Linked DNA regions of Homo sapiens. The protein of the gene in region 1 purifies or fractionates together with the protein of each later gene. This does not show direct contact. Each region holds a gene or a part of one and is shown in the gene's direction. Other genes may lie near its edges. The genes, in order: ADPRH and BCAT1.

Region 1 (3,827 bases):
GCATGGAAGACATGGATGGGCGGGCACCAGGTGAGCACAGCCGGTGGGAGGTGCAAGGAGGGCAAAGAATAAAACAGCCTTGAGGAAATCATTAAGAATGTTGATGGAGATTTAAATAACAGAGACAATAGTGTTTGTAAATGTGATAAAAATAGAAATAACGGCCATGGTGGTGGCTCATACCTGTAATTCCAGCTCTTTGGGAGGCCAAGGTGAGAGAATCACTTGAACCCAGGAGTTCAAGACAAGCCTGAGCAATATACGGAGACCCTGTCTCTAGAATGGGGTAGCCAATCCCTCTTCTAGAGACAGGTACTGATCCGTGGCTTGTTAGGAACTGGAGCACACAGCAGGAAGTGAGTGATGGGCGAAGGAGCATCATCACCTGAGCTCTGCCTCCATCAGATCAGTGGCGCATTAGATTCTCATAGGAGCCTGAACCCTGTTGGGAACTGCACATGCGAGGGATCTAGATTGTGGGCTTCTTATGAGAATCTAATGTCTGATGATCTGTGGTGGAACAGTTTTGTCCCAAAACCTCCCCCAACCAACCCCGTCCATGGAAAAATTATCTTCTGTAAAACCGGTCGCTGGTGCCAAAAAGGCTGGGGACTACAACTCCAGAAAAAAATTTTTAAAACATTAGCCAGGTGTCATGGCACATACCTGTAGTCCCAGCTACTTGGGGGGCTGAGGTAGGATGATTGCTTGAGCCCGGGAGGTTGAGGCTACAGTGAGCTAGGATCGTGCCACTGCATTCCAGCCTGAGTGACAAAGCAATACCCTGACTCTAAAAAATAAAGAAATAAATAGAAAGAACCTAAATCTCTCATAATTAATTAAGCTGACACATTTGCAACCATTTAAAATTATTCAGGGTGACTCTACTCAATAACAATGTATCGTATATTTCAAAATAACCAATAGAGTAAATTTCAAATGTCTCACCACAAAAAAAAGTGAGGCAATAGATATGCTAATTAGCCTGATCATCCCACATTGTTTACATATATCAAATCATCACATTATACTAAATAAATGTATATAATTGATTTGTCAATTTAAATATTAATAAAAATTTAAAATTTGCAAATAATATTTACTAATATTGAAAAGTATTATTATACACTAATAGGTTATAAAATAGTATGTATGTTATGAACCTACTGTCCTTTAAAAAATAGATCTGTGGGGCCAAGTGCTGTGGCTTACACCTGTAATCCCAACACTGTGAAAGGCCAAGGTGAGAGGATTGCTTGAGTCCAGGAGTTTGAGACCAGCCTGGGCAACATAGCAAAAGCCTGTCTTTAAAAAAAATTTTTTTGAGTGGCCAGTTAAAAAAAAATTTTTTTTTTTTTGAGATGGAGTCTCACTCTGTTGCCCAGGCTGGAGTGCAGTGGCACGATCTCGGCTCACTGCAACCTCTGCCTCCCAGGTTCAAGCGATTCTCCTGCCCCAGCCTCCCAAGTAGCTGGGATTACAGGCACGCACCACCACGTCTGGCTAATTTTTGTATTTTTGGTAGAGATGGGGTTTCACCATGTTGGCCAGGCTGGTTTCGAACTCCTGACCTCAGTTGATCCACCTGCCTCAGCCTCCCAAAGTGCTGGGATTACAGGCATGAGCCACCATGCCTGGCCAAAAAAAAACTTTTTTTTAAAAAATAGATATGTATTTCTGTGTTGAGAAAGATCTTGAAGAACATGTACAAAGATGTTACTAATTATATTTGGGTGATGGGAGTATTTATAGTTTTTTATTTTTACTTACTTGTATTTCTAAGTTTTCTGTGATGAATAAGTAAAAAGAAAAATGTATATTTTTTATTTTTAAAGAAAAATGCGGCTAGGCATGGTGGCTCATGCCTGTAATCCAAGCACTTTGGGAGGCCAAGGCGGGCAGATCATCTGAGGTCAGGAGTTTGAGACTAGCCTGACCAACATGGTGAAATCCCATCTCTACTAAAAATTAAAAAATTAGCTGGGTGTGATGGTGCACACCTGTAATCCCAGCTACCCAGGAGGCTGAGGCACGAGAATCACTTGAACCCCAGAGGCGGAGGTTGCAGTGAGCCAAGATCGCGCCATTGGACTCCAGCCTGGGCGACAGAGTGAGACCCCATCTCAAGAAAAAAAAATGCAAAGGCTTTTGTAGAGACTTCTGGCCACAGGTTCGCTCACAAGTGGTTCTTGCCCACTTCGGCAACTTGTTAGAGCCACTTGGGCCACCAGGTGATTTTCTCTGGCCCATCTGACCTACCTCTCCTATTTGAGGCTGCTAGGGCTGCCATAACAAAATGGCATAGACTGAGTGGCTGAAACAATGGAAATTTGTCTCTCACAGCTCTGGAAACTGGAAATCCAAGTCAAGATATTGACAGGCCTGGTTTCTTCTGAGGCCTCTCTCCTTGGCTTGCAGATGGCTGCCTCCTCGCTGTGTCCTCACATGGTCTTTCCTCTGTGTGCATGTATCCCTGGTGTTTCTGTGTGTTTGCATTCCTCTTCATGTAAGGACACCAGGCAGATTAGATTAGGGCCTACCCTAAAGGCCACATTTTAGCTTAACCACCTCTTTAAAGGCCCTATCTCCAAATCGAGGTACTTAGAGCTACAGCATTTGAATTGGGGGGACTCAATTCAGCACATAACACCTCCTGATGAAAGCTTCCCATCACCATACCAAGGGGCCCTTGTCACCCCAAGGATTGGCTTTAGATGCCAATCTCTGTTCATCCTTTCTCGGCATCTGATAGCTCATCAGTTTAGCAAGTGGAAACTTTTTTTTGTCCACCTGTGCCATCCATGAACATTTTTGTGAAAACACTGACCAGTAAAGGAACAGCAGTGCCACACTCCATCGTATGTTGCTGCCATCGCTTGGTTCGCATGCGTATTCACAGGTCCCCAGTAGGACAGGTCGGGGGACAAGCCTGCTTACGTCACTGTCACGAGGGGATAGCCAAGGCCCAGAGGTTCAGTGACTCACCAAAGACACATTGTTTCCCTGAATCCACTGCTCCTCATCTGAGCCCAGGGCTTCACTGTAGAATTTTTGGCCGCTTTCTTTCTTTTTGATGTTCAGGAACTCCAATTGTGAGGTTTTTGTTTTTTGTTTTTTGGTTTTTTGTTTTGAGACGGAGTCTCGCTCTGTCACCCAGGCCAGGGTGCAGTGGTGCAATCTCGACTCACTGCAACCTCTGCCTCCCGGGTTCAAACGATTCTCCTGCCTCAGCCTTCCAAATAGCTGGGACTACAGGCATGTGTCACCACGCCCGGCTAGTTTTTTGTATTTTTAGTAGAGACGGAGTTTCACCGTGTTAGCCAGGATGGTCCCGATCTCCTGACCTCGTGATCTGCCTGCCTCCACCTCCCAAAGTGCTGGGATTACAGGCATGAGCCACTGCTCCCGGCCTAATTGTAAGGTTCTTATTGGACTCCATAAGGAATTGGGCTTTGGAGTCTGATGGATTTTACCCAGCCACTAACTAGCTGATTATGTGATTTTGAGGAAGTTTCTTAAGCTCTGAGCTTAAAAGGCTTATTTACTTAAAAAAGAGAACAATATACTTACTTCTTAATTTTTTTGTGATGTCTCAGTAATGACTGGTAAAGATTCCAAGGATCCCTATATGAGTCTGCTGCCTTTATTAGCGTTATCTTGCCAAGGGTTATACATAAAGAAAGGCACATTGTTGGGTGGGGTTTGGAGTTTTGGGGCATGCATCATCATATTTTTTGGCTCTCCCTTTCCATCAAAAATACTTGGAGACAGAGTTTAGTTATTTATTCCTGCTGGGGCCTTTGCTTTGGTTATGCTAACCCCCATCC
Region 2 (3,827 bases), on another chromosome or scaffold:
GGGTGTTTTCTTAGCCAAGGTTAATATGCAATTTCTTAGTGGAGTGTAGGAGTTTGGGGTGCCTAGCCTTCCTACTTCCCACTTAGATAACTTCCCCTACCTGTTGTACCTGTCAAAGGAGAAGGCCAGTATGGCCATGTTCTTTGCAGGTGACTCCACCTTAGCCACAGCTGATTGTAACAAGGGTGTATATTTGGCCCAAGTCCAGCCATCTTTTTTTTTTTTTTTTGAGGCGGAGTCTTGTTCTGTCACCCACGCTGGAGTGCAGTGGTGTGATTTTGGCTCACTGCAACCTCTGCCTCCCGGGTTCAAGCAATTCTCCTGCCTCAGCCTCCTGAGTAGCTGGGATTACAGACACCCACGACCACGCTTGGCTTTGTATTTTTGTATTTTTAGTAGAGACGGGGTTTCTCCATGTTGGCCAGGCTGGTCTAGAACTCTTGACCTCAAGTGATCCGCCCGCCTTGGCCTCCCAAACTACTGGGATTACATGCCCAGCCAGCCATCTTTTACTTCTTTCTTATTCTCTTATTCCACATATTCAAGCAGGTACCACGTCCTGTGGACTCTGTCTTCTCTGAATCTATAGGTTCTCTCTTTCCCATTGCCCTGCATACTGGTTTATGCTCTCATTACTTCTCGCTTGAATTATTCCAAAAGTCTCCCAACTGGTCTGAAGCTTAATTTTCATTATGTGCTGTTCGATGTCATTCCACCACGCAAAATCTATGGCTTCTCCATTGTCTCCTGAGTTTAGTTTAGTGCATGAGACCGTTTAAAATCTACCTACACCTCTTCTATGTGCATGCATTTCTCTAGTCATAAGAGAGGATTTGATCTATCTCAAAATGTGTTCTTATATTTGCATTTACTGGTTTTTAACTCCCTCCATCCTATCTATAATTTGCACCATGTTGCTCACCATGCAGCCCACTCCCCAGACACCTTGTGAGAACAGTGATCATGTTTTTGCAGTGGAATGAACATGGGCGAAAGGTGGGAAGGTATGCATAGATTTACATTTTGAAGTCAGGAAATAAGATACTGATCAATGCTTTAATTCGACTGTGCTTTTTACCTTTTCCTCTGTTGTAGCATGAACCTTGCCCCAAAAAGATATTGATCATATGCTGCAACTCCTCTGCACTTACCTTTTCTTCTACCATGGCAGGAACCTTGCACCATTGTTGGTGCTTTACAGATATTGGTTGAGTTAAATCGAGAGCCTATTTCTGGACTTTCAAGATTCAGATTAATTGATTCTGTTTTATACTTCTCTGTTTTTGAATGGCACATACATCTTTCCACACTTGGATTTCTTTGAAGTTAAAGCTTTAATTGACTTCCAAAAGACAGAGGATTATAAAAACACAGAGAACAGTAAAGTATTTACACGGTCTTAATGCCTATTGCCAAACACATATAGCTGCTATTAATGCCTATTGCCAGACTCATATAGCTGCAAACTCATGTAGCTTAATGCCCATTGCCAAACTCATATAGCTGCTATATATGTCTACTGGAAAACTCACATAGCTGGTTGATTTTAAATTGATTGTAGGAAAATTCATACAAAAAGATGCTACATAGGAATATAAACTGAACACCACAAAAATCGTAATGAACAAACTCAGTAATGCCAGCCTGTTCAATCACTAGTTTTCAGATTAAGGCAGTATGCAAAGGGAAACATCCTTGGAATGGTCTTAGAATATAGAACAAAGTCATGTGTTTGGGAATCTTAACCAATTCCAATACTGTTCAACATGTTTTTCTTTGTTGCAAACAATGCAGTTTTTAAGCAAACTAATGAATGCATACCCTGACAAACAAATCCAACAAAAGAGGTACTTAGAGCAGTGTTCATTGAATCCTAGAATTTTGAAAGAAAAAATCTATTAGGTCATTTTGGGCTTTTACTTCTGCTGAAGAAGGATTGTTCTTTTGAGTTTATTTTTCTAGCTTTCAGTTCTATTCCATTTAAATGCCTCGAGAAATAGGACTTCTCAAATTCCCTGTGGAGAGTTCTGGCACCTACTATATTCACTTTTGAAAGTCTCCTGATAACTGATTTCCTTTTTCTTTTGGTTATACACATCAACTATTCATGGTTGGCTCTGCTGATAGTTTTCCATGATTCTTTATGCTTATTTAAAAGAAATCATATAACATTAATCATATAACATATAACCATTACTTGGTTATAAAGCATGATATTAACTAAACTGGCTTTTAAAAATTCAATAACATTAGAGCAAATATTTTATTAATATTGTCAGTAGTTCCATGAATATATAGATGTAGGATGTCAATAAAGTTTATGCCCCTTAATAACTGAGTGTGTTAATGTTGTATTTGCTGGTTAACTGGCACCTTCCCTCCTTTTGATCAATGTTCTTAGAACAGTATGTACAGGAGTACTTTAGTCTACCACTTGATATTCAAGGACAACACTTCGAAGCTTGAAATGAGGGATTGTTTTAACCATATTAACGTAACTGCATAGTTTGCAATAGATTTAATGATTCAACATCATTGTTAATATTTAGTTTAATTAAAAGTGCCTTATATTAACTTGTACACATGTGAAATGACTTATCAACAAGATTATTTATTGCAGCATTGTTTGTGATTACAAAGAGTGGAAGTCATTTGCATAGTCATTAGGCGTAAAAAATAATGACATTAAAAGAAAACAATTGAGGAAAGAACCAGTAAGCTCTCAGGTAGAGATAAAAAGAAAGTTACCGTGAGCCTTTTCACTGTATATATTTATATATTTGATTTTTGACACGTGAGTTTATTATAATCAAGATTGAATGAAAAAAATTGAAGCCTTTTAATGAAATTAGCTTGACACCAGAGTCATTATCAAGAAAATCTGAAATACTGGTACCTATGCACATTTGATTTTATTATTTTTAGTTTTATTATTTTTTGAGACAGAGTCTTGCTCTGTCGCCCAGACTGGAGTGAAGTGGTGTGATCTCAGCTCACTGCAATCTCCAGCCTCCCAGGTTCAAGCGATTCTCCTCAGCCTCCCGAGTAGCTGGGATTACAGATGCCTGCCACCATGCTTGGCTAGTTTTTGTATTTTTAGTAGTGACGGAGTTTTGCCATGCTGGCCAGGCTGATCTCAAACTCCTGACCTCAGGTGGTCCACCTGCCTCAGCCTCCCAAAGTGTTGGGATTACAGGCGTGAGCCACTGCACCCGGCCATTTAAGCAAATTTTAGTTAAGACCAGTAACATATTTTTGACAGTATTTCCGAAGTGTTGTATTTAATTTAACTAATTGAAAATTATCTATTAAGAAAGCAAGTTAAATGTAATGTGTATACTTCATAGTATACACATTATAATGATTCATAGTAACCATTATATGAAGAGTGTCTAAACTTTTCTTCAAATCTACCATTTATATAGTACAATAATGACCAGCAAACAATGGCTAAGTTTTACTTAATTAGACATTTGTGTAGCTCCTACCAAGGCTACCAGACTTTGTACCCAGTAACAGGAAAACAGAAATAATTCAAGCATTATTCTCACTCTTGAGAAACAATTCTATTTAGGGAGATATACATAAAAAGCAAAGGTGGCTGGGTGCAGTGGCTCATGCCTGTAATCCCAGCACTTTGGGAGGCCAAGGCAGGCAGATCACTTGAGGCCAGGAGTTCGAGACTAGCCTGACCAACATGGTGAAACCCTGTTTCTACTAAACATACAAAAATTAGCTGGGTGTGGTGGCATGCACCTGCAATCCCAGCTACTGGGCAGGCTGAGGCAGATAATTGCTTGAACCTGGGAGGTGGAGGCTACAGTGAG

What was found.
Region 2: the proteins of ADPRH (region 1) and BCAT1 purify together in Homo sapiens (affinity purification with mass spectrometry; one large-scale study listed by BioGRID and IntAct). This does not show direct contact.

The regions. Positions count from the first base shown.
Region 1 is NC_000003.12:119,582,438-119,586,264, forward strand, and holds part of ADPRH (ADP-ribosylarginine hydrolase), read left to right. Parts: coding exon 1-30; intron 31-3,827.
Region 2 is NC_000012.12:24,938,946-24,942,772, reverse strand, and holds part of BCAT1 (branched-chain-amino-acid aminotransferase, cytosolic), read left to right. Parts: intron 1-3,827.